Linked DNA regions of Homo sapiens. The protein of the gene in region 1 purifies or fractionates together with the protein of each later gene. This does not show direct contact. Each region holds a gene or a part of one and is shown in the gene's direction. Other genes may lie near its edges.

Evidence for each region. Proteins that work in one complex are often made in the same cells at the same time.
Region 2: the proteins of IFI16 (region 1) and DDX18 purify together in Homo sapiens (affinity purification with mass spectrometry; 3 studies listed by BioGRID and IntAct, with this or other methods). This does not show direct contact.

Annotation. Positions count from the first base shown.
Region 1 is NC_000001.11:159,016,322-159,019,977, forward strand, and holds part of IFI16 (gamma-interferon-inducible protein 16), read left to right. Parts: intron 1-211; coding exon 212-379; intron 380-1,907; coding exon 1,908-2,330; intron 2,331-3,656.
Region 2 is NC_000002.12:117,817,535-117,821,190, forward strand, and holds part of DDX18 (ATP-dependent RNA helicase DDX18), read left to right. Parts: coding exon 1-194; intron 195-2,114; coding exon 2,115-2,258; intron 2,259-3,626; coding exon 3,627-3,656. UniProt on the Homo sapiens protein: ATP-dependent RNA helicase that plays a role in the regulation of R-loop homeostasis in both endogenous R-loop-prone regions and at sites of DNA damage.

The DNA of each region.
Region 1 (3,656 bases):
TAGAGAAATAATGTGTATAACATTCTCCTCTTTCTTCGTTTAATGAAACCATCTATGCCCATCTCTTAAACTGGCGAGAGATGGGCAGCAACCTCTCAAGTTTCCAAGAAACATCTTCTTAGGAATAATAAAACTACTATCCAATAATGAAAATGTGCTCTACTTCATTTGGCACTGAAAACGAATAACAGGAAAATCAAACCACTTTCAGAAAAGAAAAAAATCAACCAAAGAAAAGGCTGGACCCAAAGGGAGTAAGGTGTCCGAGGAACAGACTCAGCCTCCCTCTCCTGCAGGAGCCGGCATGTCCACAGCCATGGGCCGTTCCCCATCTCCCAAGACCTCATTGTCAGCTCCACCCAACAGTTCTTCAACTGAGGTACACTCTTCCTGGTCCCATTTTGCTTTGTTTTTTTCAACCCAAAGTAAAGGACTGATTTCACCGGTTACTTAAAAATTGCATCGATAATTTGCTAGTTAATCCAATGTACATATTGAGAAACCACTACATTTTGATCTTTTGCTTTCACAGGGATACTTGATGAACTTGACATTATCTCTGACTGCAGGAAGTTTTCTGTTCTGTGTTGTTTGGGGAAGGGAGAGAGAGCTATGCAGTACAGAACTGTCAGCTGTGGGCTCACTGTCTACTGCTCCCATGTCCTTCATACCTCTTCCCTTGGTTCACTATAGTATTCCATGTCAGACCTCTCCAGCACCTGCTAGTTTGTGAATGAGGTTATCCATACCCTCAGCTCTTTTTCTTGTAGATTAAACAACCTCCCCTGCATTAAAACTGTTCTATCGCAGTTTAAGGAGACTGGGATGTTAAAGAGTAAAGATGTTAAAGAAAACCCTTTCTGAGCCCCAGGTTTCTGTTAGCATGCTACCTGCTAGAGCCCTGACACTGAGAAAGGCTATGGTGGTGGGAATGACACTCTGTAGAGTTTCTGCAGCCTGAACCTACTGAGATGATGGCATTCTGAGGGGTTTATCCTACTTGTGTTCTCACCTGCTGTAAGCAAACTGAATCTTGGGTAGGAACACTATGAAATGTGCTCTTTAAATTGCCCTGTCTACACTGGTGATAACTGAACACTCTTTGTGTCTATAGTTTGTGGTGGGCACCATTTTTCATTTTTTTTTTATTTTTATTTTTTTTTAGTATTTATTGATCATTTTAAATGTCATTTAACTTTGTCTATTTTTAGGCTCTGGCACTTTAAGCTGGTAAGAGAAATAGTATAAGAAATTATTTCATTCTAAAATTTATTTATTTATTTATTGTTGTTGTTGTTGTTGTTGAGACAGAGTCTCGCTCTGTCACCCAGGCTGAAGTGCCGTGGCATAATCTCGGCTCACTGCAGCCTCCACCTCCCGGGTTCAAGTGATTCTCCTGCCTCAGCCTCCCAGGTAGCTGGGATTACAAGCGCCTGCCACTACACTCAGCTGATTTTTGTACTTTTAGTAGTGCCAGGGTTTCACCATGTTGGCCAGGCTGGTCTCAAACTCCTGATCTCAGGTGATCCACCCGCCTCGGCGTTTCAAAGTGCTGAGATTACAGGTGTGAGCCACCGCGCCTGGCCCTAAAATTTATTAAGTTACTTCATGACACTGGCTTTCAGTATCCACTGGTCTTATGTTGCTCTTATGCTTTATTTCTTAAGGTTGATTCTGTTTACAGAAAGGTCATCTTTTCACTATATGGTCTCCTCTGTTACTTCATCTTGCTATTGTACCAGTTTAAGATATCTTCTGCCCTGGCTCGCAATCCCTCTCTATCCTGACTCCAGCTCTAAACATCTGTGCAAGTTTTGGGGCCCTGTGTTATACTGAGGTCACTGAATAGCAGTTCTGTATTTCTCAATTAGACATTTTTCTTTGTTCTCCTGTGCTATCATACACAGAACCCGAAAACAGTGGCCAAATGTCAGGTAACTCCCAGAAGAAATGTTCTCCAAAAACGCCCAGTGATAGTGAAGGTACTGAGTACAACAAAGCCATTTGAATATGAGACCCCAGAAATGGAGAAAAAAATAATGTTTCATGCTACAGTGGCTACACAGACACAGTTCTTCCATGTGAAGGTTTTAAACACCAGCTTGAAGGAGAAATTCAATGGAAAGAAAATCATCATCATATCAGATTATTTGGAATATGATAGTCTCCTAGAGGTCAATGAAGAATCTACTGTATCTGAAGCTGGTCCTAACCAAACGTTTGAGGTTCCAAATAAAATCATCAACAGAGCAAAGGAAACTCTGAAGATTGATATTCTTCACAAACAAGCTTCAGGAAATATTGTATATGGGGTATTTATGCTACATAAGGTAAGTCCTCAAAATTGTTTCGTTTCATTTTTCCACCAACACCTGAAATTAAAAGTCTTGATGTGTGAGATGAAGCTTTGCCTATAAACTGGATATTAGAATCCAGGACTCTGAAGACTAATGACAGGTGGATAAAGACTTCTCTGAAGATAAGACTGGGATTAGGGGACCTGTTAATATTTCTTTCCCATGTTCTCCTTCCCAGAGCATTAAACTGTAGTCTTTACAATAATGTTCACTGAGAAACCTTAAGACTTTATCAGTTGTTATTATCTATGCTAAGTGATCAAGGACATTGTGAGGTCTACATCCATACACACATGATACTAAGTTTATCCCTTTGATTATTATCTCTACTGTCATAAAAATCACATTATTTTTATTTTGAATGAAGTATTGTCCTCTGAGGCTTGAGTTCTGGTTGTGACAGTCAGAATAAGAAATAAATTGACTACTCATGGCTGGAAAACAAATGCAGAAAGTAGGTAGGACAATGTTCTGACCAAATGAAACTAATTCATCATAAAGAAATGGAACAATTGGGAAATACGAATTTGGATGATACTTGGAAAATCAGGTAATCTAAATTTGTCATTTATATATAAATAACAAAAAAAAAAAATAGAGTACAGAGTGCTTTTCCTGATATGTTCCTGTCCAAATTCATAACCAGTTAGCATGAGACATTCCACCCCGCAAAAAAGCATCTATCCTCTGCTATTGATTCAAGCAATTTATCTGATCAATACTTCATTACCCATTATATTTGTTTCCTAGAACAACTCATTAACCTGCGTTACTTTCTGTACACAGTCTTTTTTTTTTTTTTGAGACGGAGTCTCTGTCGCCCAGGTTGGAGCGCAGTGGCGCGATCTCGGCTCACTGCAACCTTCGCCTCCTGGGTTCAGGCGATTCTCCTGCCTCAGCTTCCCAAGTAGCTGGGACTACAGGCGTGTGCCATCACGCCTGGCTAAATTTTTTGTATTTTTAGTAGAGACGGGGTTTCACTATGTTAGCCAGGATGGTCTTGGTCTCCTGACCTCGTGATCTGCCCACCTCGGCCTCCCAAAGTGCTGGGATTACAGGCATGAGCCATTGCGCATGGCCTATATACACACTCTTAAAGAGATGATTCTTACAAATCCAGTTCTAGGATGATGAGTAATGAGCAAAAAGCTGGAATGTTTGAGCTCAAGGACTTGGTTTCAGGAGGGGGTACAAATATTGGAAGAGACTCAGTAAATGCAGAAAGTAGAAAAAGTAATTAGAGAGTTACCAGAAGCTTGCTTTTTCTTACAGATTCCTCATAAGTCACTGAATAAATAG
Region 2 (3,656 bases), on another chromosome or scaffold:
GCCCATGAATGTGGGCTTATCAGAAACTCAAAATGGAGGCATGTCTCAAGAAGCAGTGGGAAATATAAAAGTTACAAAGTCTCCCCAGAAATCCACTGTATTAACCAATGGAGAAGCAGCAATGCAGTCTTCCAATTCAGAATCAAAAAAGAAAAAGAAGAAAAAGAGAAAAATGGTGAATGATGCTGAGCCTGGTAGGTATTTATTATCTTTGAACTTCAGCCATTTAGTTTTTCACAGACGGTTATTGTTCCTCTTTCTATTACTATTGTGTGCACATGACATGAGAATTCCCTGTACTCACCAGTATGTTAGAGATTAGCCTGGTAGCTAATGGAAACATTTTATTGGCAGAAGCGGGGAGTCCATTTCAACTTTTCTCAAAATATTGAGGAATATATTTTTAATTTCACTAACCTTGAAGAAAACCTCTCTCAGAAAAGACTCTCCTTAGAATTCTAGAAATTTTCTCTTCTTTTTAAGTTACCTTTTTTCCTGCTTGATTCTTCCCATTTTCCTTCCATAAATTCCTCCCTTTGAAAGGAATATTAGTTACAAAGTATATAAAGTAGGAAACTTCTGAATAAATGGAACATTAATTTCCAAGTGCTAAGAATGGCAGGAGGAAAAGGAAGGAATGTTTTTTGAAGATGATGGAATTTCAGTAAGCTCGGATGAAAGAATGGACATTATAATTGAGATTTGTATAAGCAGAGATATCAAGGTAGGATAAGATAGGGGTCAGCAAACTATCCCTCCTTCTACCTGTTTTTGTAAATAAAGTTTTACTGGGTCATAGCAATGCCTATTTGGTTGTGTTTATGGCAACAGAGATCATATGACCTGCAAAGCCTAAACTATTTACTATCTGGCCCTTTGCGGAAAGTTTGCCAGCCCCTGAGTTGGAACATCCTATTCATGTATTTTACCTGAAATAAGGGTTTTATTTAGAAAGGGACTTTGAACTTTTCCAAACATGCATTACTGTCTTCATGATGCCTACACACAGAAGTCATTGTAATCCTGTTCTAAAATTATTGCCTTCACAATTCTTGTTTTGAGTATGCCCCAGGAAGTGGTATTATTTCTGCTCCCAAGCATTGAATCACAATGCTGGGCGTTTTAACCTTATGGGTTTTTTGTTTGTTTGTTTGTTTGTTTGTTTTATTATGAGATGGGGTCTCACTGTGTTGTCCAAGCTGGTCTTGAACTCCTGGGCTCAAGTGATCCTCCCACCTCGGCTTCCCAAAGTGCTGGGATTACAGGCAGAAGCCACCACACCCAACCACCTTATGGGTACATTTTAGGAACTATTCCAGGGAAAACAAAATAAGCCATGGAGACCAGCTGAAGATATCTGTGGCTTTTGAACATGTAGGTCCTACAAAGTTGACTCTTTCCTGGAAGGGTGGCCGTCAGGTACAGGGAGGAGACCAGTACTGAGCTACAGAGAGTCCTGGGTTGTGGTCTAAGTTCTTTTCAAACATCACTAATTGCCATATAGTTTTATATAAACACAGCATGTGGTTAATCCATTTGACCCAGAGTCGAACATTGAAAAGAGAAGTGAGAGGTAGGACTGAAAAGGTAGTTGGGGCCACATGAAAGTTGTGAATGTAGAAATGAGGGTGGGAAGAAGCCCTGCCTTTCCTCCCACCCTCATCCCTGATAGCCAAGGCACAGTCCAGTGTATGTCAGCCAGGCAAGTGGGTTGTTGCCCTTCCTTTACAGTCTATCTCTAGTAACATGAAGAGCCTTTGATAGTGATTGGCGTGGGAAGAAAAATGACTACTTATAATGAGTTTTTAAGGATTATGTTAATCAGGTATGCTTCCTTTCCCCTCAGTGGAGTATGTGAAACTTATAATTGGTATGTTTATACTGTTTAGTTGAACAAAAGCCTAAAAGGTTTTGTCACCAAGTCTGTCTGTACCCTGGGTTTTTAAATACAACCACTCATTTTTCACCAAACAGAATTCTTAACAAATTAATACAGCATATACTTAGCTTTTGAAAATATACGTCTTTATATCAGAGATCTTCTGTTTGTTGATCTCATTTGGAATTCTATTTTAAGGAAAAATTTTTTCGGATTTTGTCTTTTAAAACCAAAGATACGAAAAAAGCAAAAACTGAAAACAAAGGGAAATCTGAAGAAGAAAGTGCCGAGACTACTAAAGAAACAGAAAATAATGTGGAGAAGCCAGATAATGATGAAGATGAGAGTGAGGTGCCCAGTCTGCCCCTGGGACTGACAGGTAACGTCCAGGAAGTTTTCTAGAGGTAACTTCTTTAAAATGTGCCTCTCTTAGAGGATTATAGGTTTGAAGGTTCAGTTGTGACTTTCAGTTTACCTGAAAAAAGTAACTATCAACAAGAAACTTTTTTTATATCTTTCTGCTGCTTTTTCTCTTTATCTTCTATTTTGTGGTGTTTTAGTTCTTTTTGTTCCCTGTTTTTTTCCTTTTGTTCATTCCTGACACCAAATATTTTATATGCACACTAGCAGCTTCTAGGATTCCTTGGTTTGTCCTTTTCTGAGTCTCATTCTATGTTGTAATAGGAAAATGATTGGCCCTGTACGAGGTTAACCTCCTTTGGCCTTTGTTCCTTTATAAAGTTGAGTTTAGGCTAGAATTCACTGCTCCTAACCAGATATGTCTAGGAGTTACTTGAGTTGTTTATTTGGTTTGGGTTGGTTGGTTTGTTAAAATGTTGAGGCCCAACCCTAGACCTGCTTAATCCAAATTGCAAACGTTTTGGTAGTAGCTCTCGAGCAGGGAAATTCGCCCCCCGAGTAAGAAGAGTAACTCTTCCTGGTTTGCCCAGAACTTTAACAGTTTTAGCACTGAAAGTTCTGAATCCCAAGAATCTCCTCTGTCCCTAGCCTACTGAGAAGATTGGTCATCCTAAGCCTAGGAGACATTTTTGGTTCTCAGAGCTAGGAGCAGTCTGCTGGGATCTGGTGAGTAGAGGTCAGAAACACTGCATAATATCTTATAAGGCACAGGATAGTGTTTCACAGCAAAGAATTATTCAGCCCAGATGTCAGCAATGCCAAGGTCAAGAGTGATTGGTTTACACCCTGGGCATGTGGAGTATGGGGAACCCCCAGGTGATTTTGATGCCTTCTGCTGAACCACCACTGTATTACTTGATACGTAGGCTCAGCCTAACATTCTGTGGCTGTATCTGACTCTTCTGTGTCTTGTTGGAGTGAGATTAACAGGTTTTTTTTTTATTATTGACTTCACACTCAGTTTTTATTAATGCTCAATGTTTTCACTTTTATATCAGATTTCTTAAACATTTCATTTATCTCTGGACTCTCATTATTTTCCTTGTTTTGGTATTTTTATTTTATATAAATTCCTTGGTTATACCTCCTCTCTACCCCTTGTTTTGTTATAGTATGGTCTCTGGACTATAACTCACACAGCCGTTAACAGTGGAGAAACTTGAAAGATATAGGGTCTTTTTCTTGATATTATCACATATGAATAATTAAGGTTTAGCCTTTTCTTACTGCGGGAAGCTTTTCTAAGCAAAATAGATTTAGGCAACTGTAGCAATACTTTTTTAAAAAAAAAGATAAATTTGCTAATGATAAATTGTCTTCTGTTTAGGAGCTTTTGAGGATACTTCGTTTGCTTCTC